7 linked regions of the Homo sapiens genome follow. The protein of the gene in region 6 purifies or fractionates together with the protein of the main gene of each other region. This does not show direct contact. Each region holds a gene or a part of one and is shown on either strand. Other genes may lie near its edges.

What was found.
Region 1: the proteins of TKFC (region 6) and GBP1 fractionate together in Homo sapiens (co-fractionation; one large-scale study listed by BioGRID). This does not show direct contact.
Region 2: the proteins of TKFC (region 6) and SMS fractionate together in Homo sapiens (co-fractionation; one large-scale study listed by BioGRID). This does not show direct contact.
Region 3: the proteins of TKFC (region 6) and NIT2 fractionate together in Homo sapiens (co-fractionation; one large-scale study listed by BioGRID). This does not show direct contact.
Region 4: the proteins of TKFC (region 6) and ACAT2 fractionate together in Homo sapiens (co-fractionation; one large-scale study listed by BioGRID). This does not show direct contact.
Region 5: the proteins of TKFC (region 6) and AGL fractionate together in Homo sapiens (co-fractionation; one large-scale study listed by BioGRID). This does not show direct contact.
Region 7: the proteins of TKFC (region 6) and FERMT2 fractionate together in Homo sapiens (co-fractionation; one large-scale study listed by BioGRID). This does not show direct contact.

What each region holds. Positions count from the first base shown.
Region 1 is NC_000001.11:89,055,209-89,058,708, reverse strand, and holds part of GBP1 (guanylate-binding protein 1), read left to right. Parts: intron 1-474; coding exon 475-717; intron 718-1,574; coding exon 1,575-1,855; intron 1,856-2,480; coding exon 2,481-2,693; intron 2,694-3,493; coding exon 3,494-3,500.
Region 2 is NC_000023.11:21,947,209-21,950,708, forward strand, and holds part of SMS (spermine synthase), read left to right. Parts: intron 1-3,500. UniProt on the Homo sapiens protein: Catalyzes the production of spermine from spermidine and decarboxylated S-adenosylmethionine (dcSAM).
Region 3 is NC_000003.12:100,358,757-100,362,135, forward strand, and holds the end of NIT2 (omega-amidase NIT2), read left to right. Parts: 3' UTR 1-2,879; downstream 2,880-3,379. UniProt on the Homo sapiens protein: Has omega-amidase activity. The role of omega-amidase is to remove potentially toxic intermediates by converting 2-oxoglutaramate and 2-oxosuccinamate to biologically useful 2-oxoglutarate and oxaloacetate, respectively.
Region 4 is NC_000006.12:159,768,545-159,772,044, forward strand, and holds part of ACAT2 (acetyl-CoA acetyltransferase, cytosolic), read left to right. Parts: coding exon 1-84; intron 85-3,500. UniProt on the Homo sapiens protein: Involved in the biosynthetic pathway of cholesterol.
Region 5 is NC_000001.11:99,919,861-99,923,360, forward strand, and holds part of AGL (glycogen debranching enzyme), read left to right. Parts: intron 1-1,673; coding exon 1,674-1,791; 3' UTR 1,792-3,500. UniProt on the Homo sapiens protein: Multifunctional enzyme acting as 1,4-alpha-D-glucan:1,4-alpha-D-glucan 4-alpha-D-glycosyltransferase and amylo-1,6-glucosidase in glycogen degradation.
Region 6 is NC_000011.10:61,343,228-61,346,484, forward strand, and holds part of TKFC (triokinase/FMN cyclase), read left to right. Parts: intron 1-114; coding exon 115-231; intron 232-628; coding exon 629-748; intron 749-908; coding exon 909-1,046; intron 1,047-2,032; coding exon 2,033-2,139; intron 2,140-2,234; coding exon 2,235-2,338; intron 2,339-2,484; coding exon 2,485-2,518; intron 2,519-2,629; coding exon 2,630-2,719; intron 2,720-3,067; coding exon of another isoform or gene 3,068-3,097; exon of another isoform or gene 3,098-3,123; coding exon 3,124-3,257.
Region 7 is NC_000014.9:52,857,051-52,860,550, reverse strand, and holds the end of FERMT2 (fermitin family homolog 2), read left to right. Parts: intron 1-85; coding exon 86-210; intron 211-836; coding exon 837-978; coding exon of another isoform or gene 979-990; exon of another isoform or gene 991-1,245; intron 1,246-2,000; coding exon 2,001-2,174; 3' UTR 2,175-3,278; downstream 3,279-3,500. UniProt on the Homo sapiens protein: Scaffolding protein that enhances integrin activation mediated by TLN1 and/or TLN2, but activates integrins only weakly by itself. Binds to membranes enriched in phosphoinositides.

The sequences.
Region 1 (3,500 bases), on a different chromosome or scaffold from region 6:
CTTGCTGAATATCCAAATTAATAGATGTTATTTTAAATTACATTTGTCATTGTTCTAGAACAAGTTTCTTGTTCTTTCACCTTTGTGTATGCTGTGATTAGGTTAATTTTATCTCCCTGCCTAGGGTTTGTGATCTTCTACTTAGCCATAGAGTATGGAGTACAATGGATATTTATTTAAAGAACATAGACTAAAACATGAACCGTGTGCTAGTCCAAGCATTGGCAAACTACAGCCCAAGACAAATCATGGCAAATCCTGCCTGCCAGCTGTCTTTGTAAATAAGGTTTTTTTGGAATAATGCTATGCCCATTCATTTACATATTGTCTAAAGCTGTTGTCATGCTTCAATAACAGAGTTGAATACTTGGAAAAGAGACCATCCAGCCTGAAGAGCCTAAAATATTTACTATTTGGCCCTTTACAGAAACACTTATATTAGGCAATTTTATAATTTTTTAAATGTTTTTCTAGGTACCAGTCAAAAAGATGAAACTTTTAACCTGCCCAGACTCTGTATCCGGAAATTCTTCCCAAAGAAAAAATGCTTTGTCTTTGATCGGCCCGTTCACCGCAGGAAGCTTGCCCAGCTCGAGAAACTACAAGATGAAGAGCTGGACCCCGAATTTGTGCAACAAGTAGCAGACTTCTGTTCCTACATCTTTAGTAATTCCAAAACTAAAACTCTTTCAGGAGGCATCCAGGTCAACGGGCCTCGTAAGTCCCCTTCCTAGTACTTCTGCTCATTGTTTAAGACTAGAGGAGCATAGAATAACTTCCACCTAGTTTCAGCATTGAAAAATCCCAATCTACTGCTATATTTGTGTTAAATTCTAGATGGCACCAATGTTTCTAACATATATTGTTAGTCACATTTCCAGTCTAGGAAAAGGCCAAAGGAAAAAAGTTCTATTGCTTGAAATTGCCCTAGTGAACTGGACCTGCACTATGCAATAGAGTAGCCCCTAGACAAGTGTGTCTATGTAAACATAAATGTAAATAATTTAAATAGGGAAAATTTAAAAGTCAATTCACATGCCTGTATTTCAAGGACTAATATTTACACGTACTTAGTGACTAGCACACTGAAAAGCACATATACAACATTCCCAGCATTACAGAAAGCGCTTTTGAACAATACTGCAATAAAATAAACTAAATGGATGACTCTTTTTTATTGGAATAGTGTCATTTGTTTCATACATATTGATCAAATGCTTACTATGAATAGACTGAAGATACAGATATAAATGAAATAGATATGGTTCCTGTCCTAATGTTGGTTGGGGTTAAAATGGATGCAAACATTCAATTAACACAAGTCTATGTAATCTAGTACAAGAACTCTCAAATGTTGGTATGCATACATATCTTCTGAGGATCTTACCAAACACAAAAGTCTAATTCAATAGATCTCGGACAGGGTCTGAGAGTCTATTTCCAGCAAGCTTCCAAGTGATGCTGAGGACATTGATGCTGTGAGGAAAATAGGTGGTATTTGACATGCTCAGAATTACATGGAATAGAGACTTTCTTTACCACCAGAAACATTATCATTTGTTCTTCATATGCAGGTCTAGAGAGCCTGGTGCTGACCTACGTCAATGCCATCAGCAGTGGGGATCTGCCGTGCATGGAGAACGCAGTCCTGGCCTTGGCCCAGATAGAGAACTCAGCTGCAGTGCAAAAGGCTATTGCCCACTATGAACAGCAGATGGGCCAGAAGGTGCAGCTGCCCACAGAAACCCTCCAGGAGCTGCTGGACCTGCACAGGGACAGTGAGAGAGAGGCCATTGAAGTCTTCATCAGGAGTTCCTTCAAAGATGTGGACCATCTATTTCAAAAGGAGTTAGCGGTAATTTTTGTCTCAAATGTATACGGTTTAGGGTCATAGAAGCTAAAGTACCACAAGGAAAGAAAACTATTATTTATTTTGACGGAAGTAATTCCTCCTAGCTTCCATAATGGTGAAAACAACAGATTTGTGATCACATCAGTCAGAAGGACCAACTGTATTATTACAGACCCAAAGTTCTAAAACATTTTTTCCTGAATAATTTTCCCTTTACTTATGCATACAACTGACAACCAGAGCTTCTAATAAAATTACCTGCCCACTCTTCTCAGACTGATTTGATATTCTAGCCAAACACAAAGAAAATTTTCATCCTACTTATCTTGAGCAGGCTTCCGTTCAGCCACATTTATTCCATATGAAATCATTAGTCCAATATGCAAAAACAGAGTTTTCCTCTAACAGTTGACATAAAGCTATCAATCTCAGCCCTGAACCTCACCTCCAAAAAGAAAGCGACTTCAGCAGAAAGTGGGGTCAGAAGGAAGAGTGTGGTCCTGGTGAGGAGGCTGTCAGTTTCTCCAGCATCATTGACTTCTATTTTCAGAAATCGTTCCCAAAATTCTGAGGTCAAGCTAACATCCTTTCCCTGTTACTCTTTTTACTTCCTATTTTTACATTAAAGGCCCAGCTAGAAAAAAAGCGGGATGACTTTTGTAAACAGAATCAGGAAGCATCATCAGATCGTTGCTCAGCTTTACTTCAGGTCATTTTCAGTCCTCTAGAAGAAGAAGTGAAGGCGGGAATTTATTCGAAACCAGGGGGCTATCGTCTCTTTGTTCAGAAGCTACAAGACCTGAAGAAAAAGTACTATGAGGAACCGAGGAAGGGGATACAGGTAACCAAGATTTATCTGTCAATTATGGAAAGCTGCTGACCTGCCTCCTACAAACACCAAGGTGACCAAGCTTCACTGCATACAGATGTGCTTTTTTGTTTGCATAACATTCATGCTTTTATTCAATAACATATGCAAACAGGCTGTTATACCAGATATGTCCTAGGTGCTCATCAAAGAGAGTGCAGTCAATTAACTATTAAGTTATAAATTCAATTAGCAGATGAAGCACAAAGTTATTATTGTCATCATTACAGCTGGGCTTTTCCTGTTGCAAGAGACAGGAACCCAATGATGGCTGCTTAAACAAAAATGTAATTCATTGATTTAGGCTGCAAACTGGCTTTACAGGTCAGGTGGGTCTAAGGTTTCAAGTAACATCATGAACTGGCTCTCTGTCCAGTGTTCCCCCATCCCCACAGTTTTCTCCCTCCCACCATCCCTCTATCTGAGTCACTCTGATATTTGCTTTCTCAATGATGGCTTCATTCCCCAGCAGGCTCAGCCCATATGGGACCACAGCATTAACAGTTCCAAACTTAGAGCCCTTAATCTAAACAGGACAGAGACTCTCCTTTTCCCAGTATCTATATTAGCCTACTAAAAATGACTGCTAAGTAGGATGTTCTGATCGGCTTGCCAGGAGCATGTGTCTGTCGCTCCGACAGGGAATTTGACCACCAAGGACAATAGGGCCAAGAGAAAGAATTCCCAGAGGAGAAAGGATGGCAGGAAGACAAACAGGAACACCTGCTTACAGCCATTTCCTACTTCTCACTCTGTGTTCTCTGGGTCCTAAGGCTGAAG
Region 2 (3,500 bases), on a different chromosome or scaffold from region 6:
TTATTATCCTGTCCCACTACACTTTAATCCCCCATTGTGATAACACCGCAGGCACAGACGCTGTTGCTTTAACAATGCAGCCTTTCGGGGCTGATGACTGGGAGTGGGGAATGCATGCTTGGGCCCTACTCTACACGGACTGAATCACAGTTGGTGGAGGGGGGTGAGTTCCTGGATTTTGCATTTTTAATCATCTGCCTCACAGTAATTCTGTTGCTGATTAAAGTATGAGAACTCCTCTAGTAGGTTCCTTATTTAAAACAACAACAACAAAAACTTGTCTGAAACCTTTGGCACACCTACCTCACTCAGCCCAACCAGTCAGCCTAGTCAGTCTCATTAAGTCCTGTGGCTTCTGCCTGCCAATGTTCTCAAATTTGTTGCTCATCACCTGTTCCTTACTTTAGTTTCCTGGCTACAGTCTCCCCATTTGTCTCCGTTTGGGGATGGGCCCGATCATTAGGAACTCAACAGGATCCCTGTCCCTTTTCCCATTTAAAAACTCTTCCGTGGGTCCCTATTACCCCATGGATGAAGTCTAAACTCTGTATCAACACATACAAGGTCAATTTCTACCCGGTTTTTCCTCTTCCCCCAGTATATTCCTTGTGCTTCCCGGTAGCCAGGAAGCACCTGGACTCAGGATTTGACAGCTTTGGAGAAGACTTTTTTGTGTGCTTTACATAGGAATTCTCATGCGTTAATTGTGTTTGAAAATATTTTATGGGCTGCTTCCGGGAGATCCCTTGTTGGCATTGCCTTCCTTTGGCATGCGCTTTTGCTTTGTGATTTTTTTTTTAAATGCTCTTTTCCCAACTCTGCAAAAGATTCTTAATTGCACAGGTTATGCTCTATATGACTCCAGGCTGAATAACCTCATGTTGCCGGGAATTAGTTTTGTGGGCTTGCCATTAAAAAATTGAGTAAACCACAATGATTCTTTTTAGATTGTAGTTTCCAAGTTATACCGATTTCCTTAAACCTATGGAGGTAGCATATGGTAAGATTTTAGTTTCTACTTCATATCTGTAATCCTCATCTAGTTCTCATTGGGTAGTTCAGTATTTAAAATGCTTTGGAAGGGATGACAGCTGTTTAAGAAATTGACTCCATAATCAAGGCGCTAGGAGTGACCCCCATCCTGGCTAACAAGAGAGGGGTACTTTTTCAAGTAATCTGAAGCCCCGCATGAGACATTCTAATTTAATAACCAGTAGTCAGTCAATGTGTCTTTTTTTTTTTTTTTTTAAGAAAGTCACTTTTGCATTTGCAGTGGAGGAGTTACCAATTGGGAATCTTCTCATCCCCTTAGTATGTAATTTACTCCGTTTTGTTTGAATTGGTAGTTTCAGGCCTTAGCTACCTTCTCAGGAGATAAAGATTAAAATGCTGTGTTCTCTAATAGCTTTAAAAAGTTAGAGCTTTTGATTTTGGATTTCATACCCAGAAGATTGGAGATTATGGGCTTTATAATTGCGATCACCATGGTTATGCTAACCTTTCACAGATAAGGATTAGTTATAAAGTTACTAGCATCTGTTTAAAAACGTCAATAAAGTTCTTAGTTTAGTTTTTGGAGTCTGCATATTCCAGGTGTTTTAATTCACTATTTCACTGCAGTTGTAACCTAAGCCTGCTGGTGTGCACTGTGGCTCCGACCACCATTTCATGGTATAGACTCAGTTCTTTTGAAAAGTCAGAAAACCTCCTCAATTGAATCTGCGAACCACGTATGTAAACCATGCACAAATGCTCTTTAAAACCCTTACAGCTAGGCACTTTTCCAGACCCCAGGAAAAACAACCCTGCGGCCCTGAGGTGTGGTGGGCCTGGGTTTCATTAAATTGACACTGTCATCTGTGTTCCGGAAGGAGCCACCGAGCTAGCTAGTGGTGATACTGGTGATAAATGTGTTTACGTGCTAAGCCACAGATTCAAAAGGAGCTGGTAAGAGCCAGTAGCATGTTCTAGATTCCTGAACTGACTTGACTCTGGGTAGTTTTACACACACCTTAATTTTTCCCTCTCCATGAAGGTGCTAATGATACTAAAATCCCACACACTGTGTCGTTGGGTGGAATGTCCAATAAAATGTTTGGAAGAGTATCAAATGATACATAAAATACCTAACACTAATTGCAATACTTAGGGCAGAGTACTTTGAAATTGTGCCAGTGGATAAAGATGCTCAGTTATAAAGAGGTGTGAATTTAACTTACTTGAAGGGTAACGAAAGCTCTGCTGGCAAGAGAAGAGGCAGAAAATAATGGGTTGCCCTGTGTTTTGAAGGTTGGTCTACTTTATTTAAAGGGCTTCCTCCCTAAGTGATTAAAGCAGAATTTTAAAAGGACACTTTGATTTAAGATATCAATTACTTGTGTTGCATGACTCCATTTTTTTTCATAAATGAAAATTTCTCCAGTGAGAATCCTGAGCAATTCCTAGAACACTGCTGTATTTAATTCTGAATTCTCCCTTCTAGAAGGACTGTAGATCACAGTGTTCAAACAAGACTTATGTGCCTGTGGGCATTCCAAATTCCTTTGCTGGCCTTACAGTGCAGAGGTGAATATAGAACTGTTCCTCAATCCTTTTTCTTAGAGTACAGGTTGAGCATCCCTAATCCGAAATGCTCCAAAATCTGAAACTTTGAGCACCGACATAACACAAAAAAATGCTGATTCGGGATTTCCAGATTAGGGACTTTGAGTCAGTGAGTGTGATGCAGATATTCCAAAGTGGAAAAAAAAAAAAATCCAAAACACTTTCGGTCCCAAGCATTTTGGATAAAGGATATTCAACGTGTATTTTCAGGGCCAGTGCCTTGGATCATGCTTTGGAAAACAGTAGTGGCATAGTTTTTTGTTTTTGTTTTTCAAAGATGGGGTCTTGCTGTGTTGCTCAGACTGATTTCGAGCTCCTGGACTCAAGGGATCCTCCAGCCTGAGACTCCTGAGTCACTAATGTTACTGGTGCACACTGCAGTACCTGGCTGAAGTTTTATAAATGGCTTAACACTGAATCTTTTAACTGTATAAGGCAGTAGCTAAGTGGCCCAGTTGCATGTGGAATTTTGAGGAAGATGGTCATGGGTTTCTCAGTCCAAGTGTTTGTTCCTACGTGGGGGTTTGTCTAATTTGGAGCTGGAGGCTTGATGTTGAGAAGAGAGAGGAAAGAGCTTACTATTAACTCCCTTTGGTATGAGATGCAAGAATATGACAGGACTTTTTTTTTTTTTTTTTTTTTAATTTGAGTTCTGGGATGCAGTACAGAACGTGCAGGTTTGTTACATAGGTATACATGTGCCATCGTGGTCTGCTATACCTATCAACCTGTCATCTAGGTTTTAGACCCTGCATGCATTTGTCCTAATGCTCTCCCTCCCCTTGCCCCCCACCCCCTGACAGGCCCAGGTGTATGATGTTCCCTTCCCTGTGTTCATGTGTTCTCATTGTTGGGCTCCCACTTATGAGTGAGAACATGTGGTGTTTGGTTTTCTG
Region 3 (3,379 bases), on a different chromosome or scaffold from region 6:
GGTCTGTGCAAAGTACACCAAGTGGAAAAAAGTTTAGACAAGAGTTTAGGTTTCAAGATAAATGTTCTGCTCTATTGGCACTGGTTTTAAGTCTTTTGTGCTACTTTTTAGGCATTGCTGTGTAAGTTTTGGTGGTGCGTGGGTACAATGAAGCCAGGAGGGATAGAAAGGGAAATGATGTGTGTGCTGCAGGCTAAACAGGGGCTCTTCCTTATGCCTCATAACCACCTGTGTGTGACAGTTTCACATTTCCTATCAAATTATTATCTTCATTCATTTCTACTTGTGAATGAAGTTCGGAGACTAAGAAAAAGCCAGCTGTTGGAATAGAAAGCACTTTAGGATAAAATGGTCTTGTTAAAATCACCAATTAAAAAGTTAAGCCCCTGATGTACAAATAACTAAAACACATACATACAAAGACAGTGCTTCTTGTTCAATGATTTACTTCACAGCTGATTCATAATCAAATGAACAAGAATCTGCAAGAACAGAACATGGTGGGCAGGGTCCAGTAATTCCAAATGTTGTCATCCTAGCTCTTCCTGAAGCATATTGAATCCTCCAAGTATATCCCGTTGTGCTAACTAGGCTTTAAGTCTTTTGTCTGTAGATTCATTCTCAAAGTTTCTCCCTCAGAACAAAGAGCACGCCATCCTGTAAAGTACTCTTCCTGATTTTTTTTCACCCAATTTCTTAGTTTCTTTCAATTGCTTTTCAGACCCCGGCAGGCAGATTCTGCCCTCATCTGTCCAGTGACACTCTTCTGGCAGATTACTAAAGACCGATTTGTAGACCTGTCCATGTGGCCTCTCTCAACACCATTGGTGTGACCTTGCTCATACTGCCTCTCTCACCACTTAACATTGTCCCTTAGATGTTAAAGGCCCTTATATTAATAGTTTTATTTTAGCTCCTTTACATTTTATTTTGTCCTGAGGAATCTCAGCTACATGCATGGTCTTCAATATATGCCGATAATTCTCATTCACATAGCTCTCCTGTTGGCTTTTCCCCACTCGTTTAAAAACAACCACTTCACTTTGCTGGACTCTACCTTGAATGCCTCATTTTCAGCTCACACTCATGCTGTGCCTTTATTTAGATTTGTTGTGGTTGTTTCCCCACATTCTGGAAGCTCCTTACCTAAATCCTGTTTATTCCTTAATGCTTAGCACAATTTATTACTCTTGTTTCCATGGCACTACATTGTACTTCTGTTTTAGAGACTACCTTCCTCTGAAGCATATGACAGGTTCATTTACTATCCAGCCCACCAAAACTCAGTTTTTGAGCTCCTCTATGTTCATCTTTTTATGGCTAACCCTCACCATCATGAGTGCTTAGTAAATGTTGAGTTGGAATGAATTTATTCCTACAGGTTGCACTTGCTCTCTCACCAAGTGTTCTGGCCAAATAATTCTGGAATGATTTCCTTACCTTAAGGGAGTCTGATCTGGGAAGAGCCTGGGACGTGATGTAACTTCATATGCTGTAGAGCTGAATATTCATTTACTTAAGATCTTAGCTCCATTAGAAAGCAGTGAAAGCAGTGTTAATTCAGAGGCCGGGTATGGTGGCTCACGCCTGTAATCCCAGCACTTTGGGAGGCCAAGATGGGCAGATCACTTAAGGTCAGGAGTTCAAGACCAGCCTGGCCAACATGGCAAAACCCCATCTCTACTAAAAATACAAAAATTAGCCGGGTGTGGTGGCACATGCCTGTGATCCCAGCTACTCGGGAGGGTAAGGCAGGAGGAGGTTACAGTGAGCCAAGATCACACCACTGTACTCCTGGGCAACAGAGTTAAACTGTATCAAAAAAAAAATGCAGTATTGATTTAGAGCTAAGGTCACCTGATGCTCAGGCCAGTAATTTCTCCCTGCATCATGCTGTTGTCTAAGGCAGACACTGTAAAGCTCTACACTGCTGAAAAACTAAGCTTGAGATGCATAAAAGAACACATAGAGATGGGGAGTCAGTTCTCCATACATTTTGTGAGTAGAGGCATTGGTGTTTTGTTCCAAACTATCCAATCGAGAATGTTCATATAATGACAGCTTTGGAAGGTAGAGACTATCTTCCTCTGGATCATAGGACAGGTTTGTTTACTATCTGATACAGTCAAAATAGTGTTTCCCTCTAATGCGAAAGTCAGGCCAGTTTGCTTGTGACCTCATTAGATTTGGGCTGTGACGCAAACCCACTGCATGTGCAGTATCCACCTAGCTTGCCCTGTGTCACTCCCATGGGATCTGTGGCTCAAACTCATGTTGCTTGCTATGTTCTAAATAATTAAGTCTGTTGTCTGACCCAGGAGTCTCATGTCTTCTGCCAGCATTCAGAAAACTAGTTTTCAAGAAGGGTAACATCTTAGACCTTTTACAGCTCTTGACACAGAGCAATATTGAGAAATAAAATCAGGTAAAAGTTATTTAATATAGCAGTTCATAATTTAGGCCATGGATCATCTCTGCAGAGAATCCTACCATGCTGCATTCTTGCTTTAAACCTTTCGCCCTCTAAAACAATGCCCAAGAGCCAATGTTAGTCATGGTCTTCCTGTATTTGCTCTAGGTAAGCTGTTTCATAGCCTTCCAGGACAACACTTGCACAGGTTATCTTTAAGCACCAACAAAAGAAATGGAGAAATTTGAGCCATGTATCCTGAGCTCTGAAAGGCAGCAATCATCTTGACCCCAAGCATACACCATGTTCAGCTTCCTCCCCTTGGCCAGGTACCACAGCTACTTCTATCCCAGTGATCAGCAGGCCCTCCAGCATGAAGACCTTTGAGAAGGATCTATAGCTGTCAACTCCTAATATGATTTGTGCACTATCACCTTGAAGTAAACCAGACTAGTTATTTTCATGCTAAGAGTCTGAAAACAGTGCCTTCTTTCTGATGTCTCTTGTAGAATATTGGCAGAGGGATCTCAATTTTTACTTTATACCTGAAGGGCAGCTTTTTGGTCTGATAGTTATAGTGCAATCATTCATATTTTAAATCACAAATACCCCCACTTGTTGATGAAAACTCCAGTCTGTGGCATGGGTGTACATTCACTGCCTAAACCATCTTTGGCCAAAATTTGTGTGTATATGAAGTCATTCTACTTTAGCATACTCAAAGGCATTCCTTTAAACCATTTATCTGCTTGTACACAATAGCCAAAGGAATATTTGTTACTATGGCTGATGTAATAAACTATCATCACAAATTTAGTGGCTGAAAAAAAACAAAGTTATTCTCTTTTACTTCTGGAGTCCAAATTCATGGGGCCAAAATGAAGGTGTTGGCACTCTGCTCTAGGGCAGGATCCGTTTCTTGCCTTTTCCAGTTTCTGGTAGTTGCCAACATTCTTTGGCTTGTGGCCA
Region 4 (3,500 bases), on a different chromosome or scaffold from region 6:
AGATAGGTGAGATGCCACTGACTGACAGTATACTCTGTGATGGTCTTACAGATGCATTTCACAACTGTCATATGGGTATTACAGGTAAGGCAGACATGGCTGAAACTGTATTAGCTTTAAAAAGGTTAAAAAGACCATATACTAATCTGCTTCTTAGGTGCTTTCGTCCTTATGGCCAGAGACTGTCTTAAGGATTTTTATATCTCTTCTTTGATTAACTGAAGTGAAGTAAGTATTCTCTTCTTTGTGAACTCTTGATTATCAGAGAATGTTAGAAGTGGGAAGTACCTCAGAGTTCTTCTGGATCAACCCCTCATTTTACCAAATGAAGAAACAGGGCCCACAAATAGTGCTTCTGTGGCAGAGGTAGTGACAGAGATAAACCAGTTGTTTTTTTGGTACCTAGCTGTACTTTTTGTACTACACAATTGGGTTATTGGTCATTCATGCTGAAGGGTCCTGTGGTCTAAGTTTAATGGCAAAGCAACTGGGAAATCAAAAGCACTCTTGTCTTTAGTATACATGTAAAACTTAAGAAACAGAATAGACATTTTAGAGTTAAAGAATCAAACCCTGAGAAGTTAAGCACCTTGCTCAAATGCATGCAGCAATGGCTCTGGTTTTATGTAACACATAAATATGTGAAAAAGGTAATGGGGAAAAGTACAAGATTCCAAGAGGGAACTGTGTGCATGAATGCTAGGAAGGAAGGAAGGGCTTAGGGATATGGGAAGCAATGAGAAGCTCAAGGCATCTTGACCACTTCTCGACTTACAGCCACAACAGAGAAGGCTATAAAAACACAGGCAGACAATGGAAGACACTGTGTGACCAACTGCCTCAACCATAACTAGAGGTGGTCATTAAAAATTCAGATCCCGAGCCCTTTCCAAGGTGTACTGTGGATTGAATGGTACTCTTCCAGCCTCCAGAACTGTAAGAAAATAAATTGCTCTTCTTTAGAAAAAAAGAAAAGAAAAAAGGCTCAGGTCATGATGGAGTAATTGACAAAGATTAGATTTCCTACTATAAACAAGCATAAAACTTGTGAAAATATATAAAGCCACTGTTTTATGTATGTCAGGTTTTGACTAATACTCATGTAAGACTGAGATCCTTGAGAGAAGGGAAAACCCCACTGTCACTGTCTCTACCCAGGGCACTTCCCAAACTGTGTTATGGAGAGGCAGAGCCTAAGCTGGAAACAGTGGTCTCAGTGATCTGAAGAAGCAGAGAATTTGGGGCTTCTGAGATGGCTGGAGTTTGTGGGGCAGAATAAGGGGGAGAAGAAAAAAAGAGCTCCAGAAATCTGCAAAAGGTTCCCCTTAAGTCTTTGATCAAATACTAAGCTTGTAGATAACAGCTTACAAGGCCTAGTAGAAAAGAGCTGCAAAGGAGAGGTGAACTGGAGATTTTATAGATTACTAGGAGATAAAAGTTCTGGACAAGCGAGTGGAAACCTTACTGAACTCCTTGGACACTCCATTGACATCTCAGAAAGACCACAGTTTAGGGGTAGGGCCAAAGCCATAGAGTAAAAGCTACTCTAGACCCAAACTAATAAGCTTAAAAACAAGCCTCAAAAGGATCAAGGTGATTTGCCAGTATTTTGACTGCTTGTGGAAACAAAACTCAATATATTCTCTAAAGATAATAAAATCTCTATGTCCAGTTATGTAGCAACTATAATGTTCAGCATGCAATGAGAACTTTCTAGATACACAAAGAATTAGGAAAATATAGCTTACAACCAGGGTGGAAAAAAACCACAACAGTCAACAGACCCTGCAATACTAGAATTATCAGATGAGGATCTTAAAGGCTCTATTTTACATATGTTTAAAGATACAAAGGAAAATATAATCTTCATAGAGGAATAGATGTGGACATCTCAGGAGTAAAAGGAAAAAATATAAACAAGAACCAAATAGAAATTCTAGAACTTGCAAAGTACACAATCTGAAATTAAGAATTCACTGGGATGGGGCCGGGCATGGTGGCTCGCACCTGTAATCCCAGCACCTTGGGAGGCTGAGGTGGGAGGATCACTTGAGGCTGGGGGTTTGAGACTAGGCTGAGCAACATAGTTAGACCTCATCTCTAAAAAAAAAGAAAAAAAAATTCTGAATGGCCTTAACAGCATCTTGGAGACAGAAGAAAAAGGGTCAGGAAGTTTGAAGATAGATCATATACACGACCTGAAGAACACAGAGAAAAATAATGAAGAATAAATGAACAGGCCAGGCACGGTAGCTCACGCTTGTAATCCCAGCACTTTGGGAGGCCAAGCCGGGTAGATCATCTGAGGTCAGGAGTTCAAGACCAGCCTGGCCAACATGGGGAAACCCTGTCTCTACTAAAAATACAAAAATGAGCTGGATGTGGTGGCCCATGCCTGTAATCCCAACTACTTGGGAGGCTGAGGCAGAAGAATAGCTTGAACCCAGGAGGTGGAGGTTGCAGCAAGCTGAGATCACACCATTGCGCTCCAGCCTGGGTAACAAACAAAACTCTGTCTCAAAAAATTAAATTAAATTAAATTAAATTAAAAAATAGGCCAGGTGTGGTGGCTCATGCCTGTAATCCCAGCACTTTGGGAGGTCAATGCAGGCAGATCACCTGAGGTCGGGAGTTTGAGACCCACATGACCAACATGGAGAAACTCCATCTCTACTAAAAATACAAAATTAGCCAGGCTGGTGGCGCATGCCTGTAATCCCAGCTACTCGGGAGGCTGAGGCAGGAGAATCGCTTGAACCTGGGAGGCGGAGGTTGCGTTGAGCTGAGATCACGCCATTGCACTCCAGCCTGAGCAACAAGAATGAAACTCCGTCTCAAAAAAATAAAATATAAATGAACAGAGCCTTGGTGGTCTGCAGGACAAAATAAATAGGACTAGCATGCATGGAATAGGAATCTCATACATAAGGAAGAGAGAGAATGGGGCAGAAAAAAACTGAAGAAAATTTCCACATTTGGTGTGAAAAGAAGTTCAAAGACCAAGATAGACAAGGGAAAAATTACACCTTAGCAAATTGTAGCAAAAAGTTAAAAAAAGATCATGCCACTGCACTCCAGTCTGGGCAACAGAGTGAGACTCTGTCTCAAAAAAAAAAAAAACAAGAGTGAAAGTGAAGAGCCATTTTTAGATGAAGGAAAATGAATTGCCTGCACACCTACACTACAAGAAATACTAAAGGAGCCAGGCATGGTGGTATGTGCCTGTAGTCCCACCTACTCAAGAGCTGAGGCAAGAGATTGCTTGAGTCCAAGAGTTTGAGTCTAGCCTGGGCAATGCTATCATAGTCTACTATGATTGCACCTGTGAGTATCTACTGCATTCCAGTCTGGTTAACATAGTGACACAACAACAACAACAACAACAAAAGAATAGCTTCCAGCCGGGCGCGGTGGCTCACGCCTGTAATCCTAGCACTTTGGGAGGCCGAGGCGGGCGGATCATGAGGTCAGGAGATTGAGACCATCCTGGCTAACACGGT
Region 5 (3,500 bases), on a different chromosome or scaffold from region 6:
ACCCACTCTGGACCACTCTCACCCTTGGTGGACTCCCTCTTCATACCTCTTGGACTCTAACATCCTGCTCCATACTACCTATTACCCTTTCCCCTCCATTTCTGGTCACCTACCTTGCTCTGTCCCACCTAATGACTTCAGGATGAATTTTTCAGGAAAGCAAGGGAAAGGGGACTTCCTTATATTTGTATGGATACATTCCATGTCCTAGTGTCCAAGTGTAATTATGGGCAGCATATTCATGGTTTTGTAACCTCATTTTGTTTTTTAATTTTGGTATCTGTTAGTTTGCTAGAGCTGCAGTAACAGAGCACTACAAACTGAGTGACTTAAATAATAGAAATTGTTAAACAGCAGAATATTGTCTCACAGTTCTGGAGGCCAGAAATCTGAAAAATCAAGGCATGGGCAGAGCCATGCTCCCTCTGAAGGCATTAGGGAAAGGTCTCTTCCAGCCCTGTCTCCTAGCTGCTGATAATCCTGTGGCTTGTGGCAGCAAAACTCCAATCTTCATGTGGCATTATCTTAACTAATTACATCTGCAGTGACCCGATTTCCAAACAGGTTCACATTCTGAGGTACTCGGGGCTAGGACTTCAACATACAAATTCTGTGGAGATGTAATTCAACACATTACAGATGCCCAGGTATCCAACTTCAGTCATTTGGCATTTTACTCTGATGTAGCTTGAATACTTGGAAACATACATTTTCTATATTTTCCATGTTTCTATGACAGTTTTTTAAATATGGTACCTAGCTGATATTAGTTATTATCCAAAATACCCTGTTTTACCTAATGGGATTATTTTTTCCCATTTTTACTATGAAGTATTTGATGCCCACTGAAGCGTGTATGTAATATAGCCCTGAGATACAAACCATAGTAATGAAACAAATATGTTCCCACAACCCAACTTAAAAATGAAACATTACAGATGTCTGTACTTTTTGAATTTGTTTTCATTTTTAAGGGATTACATTGAAATTAACAATAAATTTGATGTGCTAACATCACTGTGTTCTGATAAGGAGGGCTGGAACAAGTTATTTAACCTCTATAAATCTCTCTTACCTCTCTATAGATAGGAATACTTATGGTACCTTCCTTACAGGGTTACTGTGAACATTAAATGAGATAATATACATAAAAGCAGTATTAGAACATAAATGCATAATAAATACCAAGTTTATTATTCAGTAGAAAGAGAAATTAATTGGCATTTTTTTCTTTAAGTAGAAAGTATTCTGGAATGCCATTTTTCCGCCTAATCATAGTTCTTAGTGTTTCTTCATTACTTTTACTTTTACAGTTTTATCAAGATCACACATAACACATCTGCATAATTACAATTTGAGTCTCATAAACAAAATTATGCCTGAGAGAGTATTTATCTCTATGTTTATATGTAGCTTGTAATGGTAGTTTCTTCTATGTTTTTAATACATAAAGGGATTCCTTGTATTTAAAAGTCTCAAATTCCAAAGATGGAATGTCAAAGAATAATTTCAGTCTAAATTCATTTGTATGTCTTTAGGATATTGTTTTATTTTGTAGCAAATGACTACATATGATTATTTTCTACACTAGAAGGCAAAAATCACCAGGTCTTGCCTATTTTGTTAATATGAATTAAATTATGTCTTTGTAAAATGTCTTTTCTTTCATTCAGATCCCCTTGGAAAGGACTTCCAGAACTGACCAATGAGAATGCCCAGTACTGTCCTTTCAGCTGTGAAACACAAGCCTGGTCAATTGCTACTATTCTTGAGACACTTTATGATTTATAGTTTATTACAGATATTAAGTATGCAATTACTTGTATTATAGGATGCAAGGTCATCATATGTAAATGCCTTATATGCACAGGCTCAAGTTGTTTTAAAAATCTCATTTATTATAATATTGATGCTCAATTAGGTAAGATTGTAAAAGCATTGATTTTTTTTAATGTACAGAGGTAGATTTCAATTTGAATCAGAAAGAAATATCATTACCAATGAAATGTGTTTGAGTTCAGTAAGAATTATTCAAATGCCTAGAAATCCATAGTTTGGAAAAGAAAAATCATGTCATCTTCTATTTGTACAGAAATGAAAATAAAATATGAAAATAATGAAAGAAATGAAAAGATAGCTTTTAATTGTGGTATATATAATCTTCAGTAACAATACATACTGAATACGCTGTGGTTCATTAATATTAACACCACGTACTATAGTATTCTTAATACAGTGCTCACTGCATTTAATAAATATTTAATAAATGATGAATGATAGAAGTTTCCATCTACAATATATGTTCCTAAATGGAGCACAGATGTTCAAACTATGCTTTCATTTTTTCACTGATATATTAATTTTTGTGTAATGAATGCCAACAGTATATTTTATATGATTTACTTATGTGAGGAAACATGCAAAGCATTAGGAAATTTATTTCCTAAAAACAGTTTTGTAAAATTAGTATTGAGTTCTATTGAGTATTATAAGATAGCTTACATTTTCAAAATGGAAATTGTCGGTCATATTTCTAGAACTTTAAAGAAAAAAGAATGTTATATTAGTTTTCTAAAACTCAACTATCTTTAGTCATGTTCAAAAATCTATTGCTAGATCATAGTAGATACTGGTTTTCTATTAACTCAAAACCTACATTGACAAGTTTAACATTGAGAAGAATCTTAACAAAAATATGGATATGAATTCAGTAGATATCTTAAATTCAATAAAATCACTGGAAGTTTTTCATGATAACTTATTTTAAGATGCCTTAAAAATCTTAAAGTCACAAAAGGAAAAAGGTTTTTAACATTTACATGAGTTAACATTTTTTCATAGAACTTATTTCCTAGATAGAATTTTTTACTGTTTTTTACTGTTTTCTTAAGAAAACAGTTAAATCATTATGCATTCAGTTGGAAGAAAGTAGTGGCAAGAATTCTTTCATTGCTATATAATATTCAGTGGCTCATTTATACCTAATAAAATAATGGTATTTTAAAATAATGCTACTTTCAAAGTAGCATTTTTTTAGTTAGTTTACAGGTTACATACCCAAAACCTTAACTATGACTAAGAAATTAAAGAAGAAAACCAGCAAACTAAAACTTCTGGGCAGCAAAAATATATAAATGCTTCAGATGTCAAATACCCATGCTTGAAAGCTCGTGTAATTTACTTTAAGATTATCTGCCTGCTCTTCTTCAAAGCTGACCTTGCTTTAGAAATAGTTTTAACTAGCTTAGTTTTCTGGTTTCCAAAACTAAAATAGATTAAATCCTACAAATTTAAGGACAGTTGTGACAGTAATCTGACCACTATCTATAAATACATTGGACATTGGTTTCCAAATCTCCCTTTCTTCTTCAGTTCCTTCCTTGTTCAATATATACCCTTCTCTAAACTGTGCGGGTAAAAGGAATGACTGTCCTTGAGAGAACCATTAGTTTATCAAAGGTTTATGTAGTTTTGTTGCTGTACCCTAACTTTGATATTCA
Region 6 (3,257 bases):
GGACATCTCCCTCCCGACCTCAGAGCCCCAGCTTCCAAGGTCCTTGCTTTTCTGTTGTTTTCTTTCCCTGATGCCCATTTTTCCCTTTTGGACTGCCACACTCTGGTATTGCAGAGGGCCGCGGGGTGAAGATTGCCCGTGCCCTGGTGGGCACCTTCATGTCAGCACTGGAGATGCCTGGCATTTCTCTCACCCTCCTGCTGGTGGATGAGCCTCTCCTGAAACTGATAGGTGAGACTTGGAACCTGGGGTCACCCAAGCCAGGGCTCCTTGTAACTGGAAGGAGCCAGGGAGACTTGGAGACCCCGTCAGGGCTGACCGTGACAATCAGGGCTCTGGAGCCTGTGAAGAAGGCTCTTCCTGGGCTTCTCCAGCCTTCTCCAGCTCTCACTGGACTAGAAGGAGTTGGTATTAGGATCCTCCTCAGAGAGGCCTGACCCTTTCCCAGGGACCCTCTCTCCATACCCCTGTATACAGTAGGCACTCAGTCCATGCTTGTCGAGGTGGACTCCCTTCCTCCAGGGCTGCTGAGAAAGCCAGGCCACCAGGGTCAGGATGGGAGGGTCCAAGCCCTGCTGAATCCCTGGCTGGACAGCCGTGTCTAAGAGAGTTATCTTGCTGCCCTTAGATGCTGAAACCACTGCAGCAGCCTGGCCTAACGTGGCTGCAGTCTCCATTACTGGGCGGAAGCGGAGCCGGGTAGCCCCTGCCGAGCCCCAGGAGGCCCCTGATTCCACTGCTGCAGGAGGTACCAACCCCTGCCTTTGGGGAAGGGACAGGCTTCCCAAAGGATGCAGGAGTATACGGTGGGGCGGGTAGGGGCCCTGGCACCCACACCTCCCACCATAGTCAAGTGTGGTTGTGAGAAGGGCCTGGTGGGCCTGTTCTTCAGCATCCTCCCTTTCTAGGCTCAGCCTCGAAGCGGATGGCGCTGGTGCTGGAACGGGTGTGCAGCACTCTCCTGGGCCTGGAGGAACACCTGAATGCCCTGGACCGGGCTGCTGGTGACGGCGACTGTGGCACCACCCACAGCCGTGCGGCCAGAGGTTGGTGCCAGGGACTTTGCCAAGTGAGGTCATTCACAAAACCTTAGCCCCCCTTCCACTTGTTTCCCTGAAGGCAGGGACCTTCCTTTTTTTTTTTTTTTTTTTTTAAGAAGGAATCTCACTCTGTCGCTAGGCTGGAGTATGCAATGGTGTGATCTCGGCTCACTGCAGTCTCCGCCCCCCGGGTTCAAGTGATTTTCCTGCCTCAGCCTCCTGACTAGCTGAGATAACAGGCATGCGCCACCACGCCTGGCTAATTGTTGTGTTTTTAGTGGAGACGGGGTCTCGCCATGTTGGCCAGGCTGGTCTCTAACTCCCCACCTCAAGCCATCCGCTCGCCCTGGCCTCCCAAAGTGCTGAGATTACAGGCATGAGCCACCACACCCGGCCGACAGGGACCTTCTTAACACCACAAATGTATGAGGTTGTTATCTTAGAATTAAATGAAATCCTTCACAGTGAATAACTTACAACTCAAGGCGAACTTATTCTGTTGTCCTTATTTTTCTCAGTTTACCCAGACCAGTGAAAAGCTCTTAACTGTCCAGCATCATTCATTCGAGAAAAAGGTATTTGGTGCCTGCCGTGGGGCAGGCACTGCTCTCAGCTGTGGATACAGTAGTGAACAGAGCAGACAGAAATCACTGCCCTCATGGCTTATGTTCTAGGTGGAAGACAGTCAACCAGATAAATCAGTAAAACACAGAGGATGTTAGCACAAAGGGCTAAGGAGAAAAAAACCAAGCCAGGGAGCAGAGTACAGAGCGTCAAGTGGAGGGCTTCGGGGCAGGCCTCACCTCCCCAGGCCCCTTTCGGTTACGCAGCCCAGCCCCTCTCCAGACTGCACACTGGATGTGGAAAGGGATCTTGGGAAGCCTTCATTCCACTTCCCTGTCGGCCTTTTCCAGCCTTCATTGGTGCTGGCTGGAAGTCTGGCAGATGGAGGGAGGATCTCTGAATTCCTCCCCATCTCTCTCTGCCTGCAGCAATCCAGGAGTGGCTGAAGGAGGGCCCACCCCCTGCCAGCCCTGCCCAGCTGCTCTCCAAGTTGTCTGTCCTGCTCCTGGAGAAGATGGGAGGCTCATCTGGGGCGGTGGGTGCCTGGGGGCTGAAGGGCTGACAGGGAGGTGGCTGGGCTGGCTGGGGTCCAGGCCAGCACCACATGCTCAGCGTTGTCATCTTCCCCAGCTCTATGGCCTGTTCCTGACTGCGGCTGCACAGCCCCTGAAGGCCAAGACCAGCCTCCCAGCCTGGTCTGCTGCCATGGATGCCGGCCTGGAAGCCATGCAGAAGTGAGCCAGAGCCCTGTGCATCAGACCAGGGGTGGGCTGGGGGAGGTGTTTGGTGACATCTGCGCCCTGCCAGGCCCTAGCCCAACCCTCAGAGTGATTCCCTTGGTTCCCTATAGTGAGCCTCTTTCACTCTCTTTCCCTGCCAGGTATGGCAAGGCTGCTCCAGGGGACAGGACTATGGTATGTACTCAGGCTGTGGCCTCAGACCTTTCTCCTTTTGGCCCTGTAAGTCTAAAGAGCACCCTCGGTTGCAGGGCCCGTGCTCAGCCCCCTTTCCTTCACCTTGTCCAGCTGGATTCTCTGTGGGCAGCGGGGCAGGAGCTCCAAGCCTGGAAGAGCCCAGGAGCTGATCTGTTACAAGTCCTGACCAAAGCAGTCAAGGTGAGTGAGGCTGGGCCCAGCCACCTGGGGAGACAGGCTTCTAGCCAGCAGACTCCTGTCTCCATGTGACCCTGAGCAAGTTAATAACCTTCCTGGACCGCAGTTTCCTTCTCTGTACAATGGAGATGAGCACCTATCTCAGAAGGTGGTTATGTGGCTAAGGAAATATGTAGAGCCCCGCACACTGCCTGGGATGTGACAGGGCCTCAGTGAATGGTGACCCTTTTCCCTGCTGGAAGTAGATGAGAAGTGACTTTCCATTTGGTGACAGAGCAGAGGGTGCTGGCAGAGCCAGGGCAAGGGCGTGCAGGGCCAGGCTGCACGGCAGAGACGTTCTGCCCATGGCAGGAAGGAGGCGGCCTGGTGATCTGCCCTTGAACCTGCTCCCACACCCCATCCCCCAGAGTGCCGAAGCTGCAGCCGAGGCCACCAAGAATATGGAAGCTGGAGCCGGAAGAGCCAGTTATATCAGCTCAGCACGGCTGGAGCAGCCAGACCCCGGGGCGGTGGCAGCTGCTGCCATCCTCCGGGCCATCTT
Region 7 (3,500 bases), on a different chromosome or scaffold from region 6:
GTAATTCAATCTTTTGATCTTTTGTCTCAGTTCTCCCATGAGAGAATAATGTTCAATGGTAAAGGTGATGTTTACTCATGTTTAGATAACAGCGAGAATCTTGGAGGCCCATCAGAATGTAGCTCAGATGAGTCTAATTGAAGCCAAGATGAGATTTATTCAAGCTTGGCAGTCACTACCTGAATTTGGCATCACTCACTTCATTGCAAGGTCAGTGGTTCTAAGCATCTATGTGTAAACCTTAATCTGCATTTTTGCTTAATCTACCTCATGTAATTAGATATTAAACATCTAAAGCATACCTATGTAGACCCATTAACTCATATTACAATAGAATTCAAAGACTGTTAGAATGTATTTTGTAAGCTTTTAATTTCTACATTAAAAATTCAAGATAATTGTGTTTGTTTTACTACTAAGAGAATAGCACTCTTGGCCAGGCACGGTGGCTCACGCCTGTAATCGCAGCACTGTGGGAGGCCGAGGTGGGTGGATCACGAGGTCAGGAGATAGAGACCATCCTGGCTAACACGGTGAAACCCTGTCTCTACTAAAAATACAAAAAATTAGTGGGGCATGGTGGTGGGCGCCTGTAGTCCCAGCTACTCGGGAGGCTGAGGCAGGAGAATGGCGTGAACCCAGGAGGCGGAGCTTGCAGTGAGCTGAGATCGCGCCACTGCACTCCAGCCTGGGCAACAGAGCAAGACTCCGTCTCAAAAAAAAAAAAAAAGAATAGTACTCTTTTAGGGTTAGAGAGAACACTTATCTTGAAGAAAAGCAGTCCAACATGTTCCCCCACAACATGTTTTTAACCGTTCTTTTCTTAAATGTTATAGGTTCCAAGGGGGCAAAAAAGAAGAACTTATTGGAATTGCATACAACAGACTGATTCGGATGGATGCCAGCACTGGAGATGCAATTAAAACATGGCGTTTCAGCAACATGAAACAGTGGAATGTCAACTGGGAAATCAAAATGGTAAACTCATAACAATGTTACTTGAATATAGTCCTTCTCTGATACAAATTAGTACATTAAGAATAAAAAGGCCTATAAATTCTGATGATTATTTGTACCACCACCTCTTAAAGTACAGACAGACCATGGTTGACTATTCATTTCTCACTTAAATTTGCCTATTTCATAATTAGCCCAGTTACTAAAATTCTAAGTGCATAATTTGCTTAGAATGTTGCCTTTTTTGTCTTTCTGTAATGGATAAAGCCGATCTACTCTGAAATAGCAGCTACTGTTTGTTGAATGCCTACCCTGTGCCAGACATGATACTTAGAGGCTTACATTAGTACCCTGTCTCTAAACCTCATCACAGCCTTTTAAGGCAGTTGGACAAATGAAGACACTGCAATAGAGAGACCTGAGGGCCATCATTGTCTATGACCACGCACAAAGTAACTACAGAATCATTTCAAACTCAGATGCTTTAGGCTTAAAAACCTGGCACATTTACCACTGTACATCATGTTGCCCCCAGTCTTGGAGTATACGAGTATCATTTAAAATGAACCATCTTTTACTAATAAGTCATTTGGTTTAGCATCATATTGGATTTATTGTATCAATTCCTATTACTTCAAAGAATCTTATATTTCTGAAATACTCAAACGTGATACCTAAAATTTAAGTATCTGAAGCGAACGTTAAAACACAGGAAGTAGGCTTTCCTGCACGACTTGAAGAGAGGCATTCTCATTAATTGAATCAATCACCAGAGACCATTTGAGAACTGAACGACCTAAAACCCTTGCATTCCTAGTCTTCCTTTTCAGAACATGAAAACTTAAAGTGTAGGGGAAGGGCAATAAACTTAGCTTCTTCTTTGGGACTTAAAGGCATTATTCGTTTAGGTTTTAGACAGACTGATCATTTGAGGATCAACAAGTGTTTTGTGATATGACAGACTTTAAGTAGCACAGTAGTTTTGTGTGGACCCAGCCACCTAGCATTTGGGACAGCACTGATGGCTCTTGTCTTTGTTCCAGGTCACCGTAGAGTTTGCAGATGAAGTACGATTGTCCTTCATTTGTACTGAAGTAGATTGCAAAGTGGTTCATGAATTCATTGGTGGCTACATATTTCTCTCAACACGTGCAAAAGACCAAAACGAGAGTTTAGATGAAGAGATGTTCTACAAACTTACCAGTGGTTGGGTGTGAATAGGAATACTGTTTAATGAAACTCCACGGCCATAACAATATTTAACTTTAAAAGCTGTTTGTTATATGCTGCTTAATAAAGTAAGCTTGAAATTTATCATTTTATCATGAAAACTTCTTTGCCTTACCAGACCAGTTAATATGTGCACTAAACAAGCACGACTATTAATCTATCATGTTATGATATAATAAACTTGAATTTGTCACACATTCCTTAGGGCCATGAATTGAAAACTGAAATAGTGGGCAAATCAGGAACAAACCATCACTGATTTACTGATTTAAGCTAGCCAAACTGTAAGAAACAAGCCATCTATTTTAAAGCTATCCAGGGCTTAACCTATATGAACTCTATTTATCATGTCTAATGCATGTGATTTAATGTATGTTTAATTTGATATCATGTTTTAAAATATCCTACTTCTGGTAGCCATTTAATTCCTCCCCCTACCCCCAAATAAATCAGGCATGCAGGAGGCCTGATATTTAGTAATGTCATTGTGTTTGACCTTGAAGGAAAATGCTATTAGTCCGTCGTGCTTGATTTGTTTTTGTCCTTGAATAAGCATGTTATGTATATTGTCTCGTGTTTTTATTTTTACACCATATTGTATTACACTTTTAGTATTCACCAGCATAATCACTGTCTGCCTAAAATATGCAACTCTTTGCATTACAATATGAAGTAAAGTTCTATGAAGTATGCATTTTGTGTAACTAATGTAAAAACACAAATTTTATAAAATTGTACAGTTTTTTAAAAACTACTCACAACTAGCAGATGGCTTAAATGTAGCAATCTCTGCGTTAATTAAATGCCTTTAAGAGATATAATTAACGTGCAGTTTTAATATCTACTAAATTAAGAATGACTTCATTATGATCATGATTTGCCACAATGTCCTTAACTCTAATGCCTGGACTGGCCATGTTCTAGTCTGTTGCGCTGTTACAATCTGTATTGGTGCTAGTCAGAAAATTCCTAGCTCACATAGCCCAAAAGGGTGCGAGGGAGAGGTGGATTACCAGTATTGTTCAATAATCCATGGTTCAAAGACTGTATAAATGCATTTTATTTTAAATAAAAGCAAAACTTTTATTTAATATTTATTTTTGTACTTGTTTTTAATGTTTACATAGTATTAATTTAGTAGAAATGAACTTCTGCCTTTTGGAATTGCTTTGCCTGCATGTTATTTTGTGAGAACAACTGGTTAGTATTCCACAGCGTTGCCAGATAGAGATACTTTATCTCAAAGATAGTCTTTCACCTCAATTGAAAAGCCCTCATTTTCTTAATACTTAAAAATGAATGTGTAATATCTA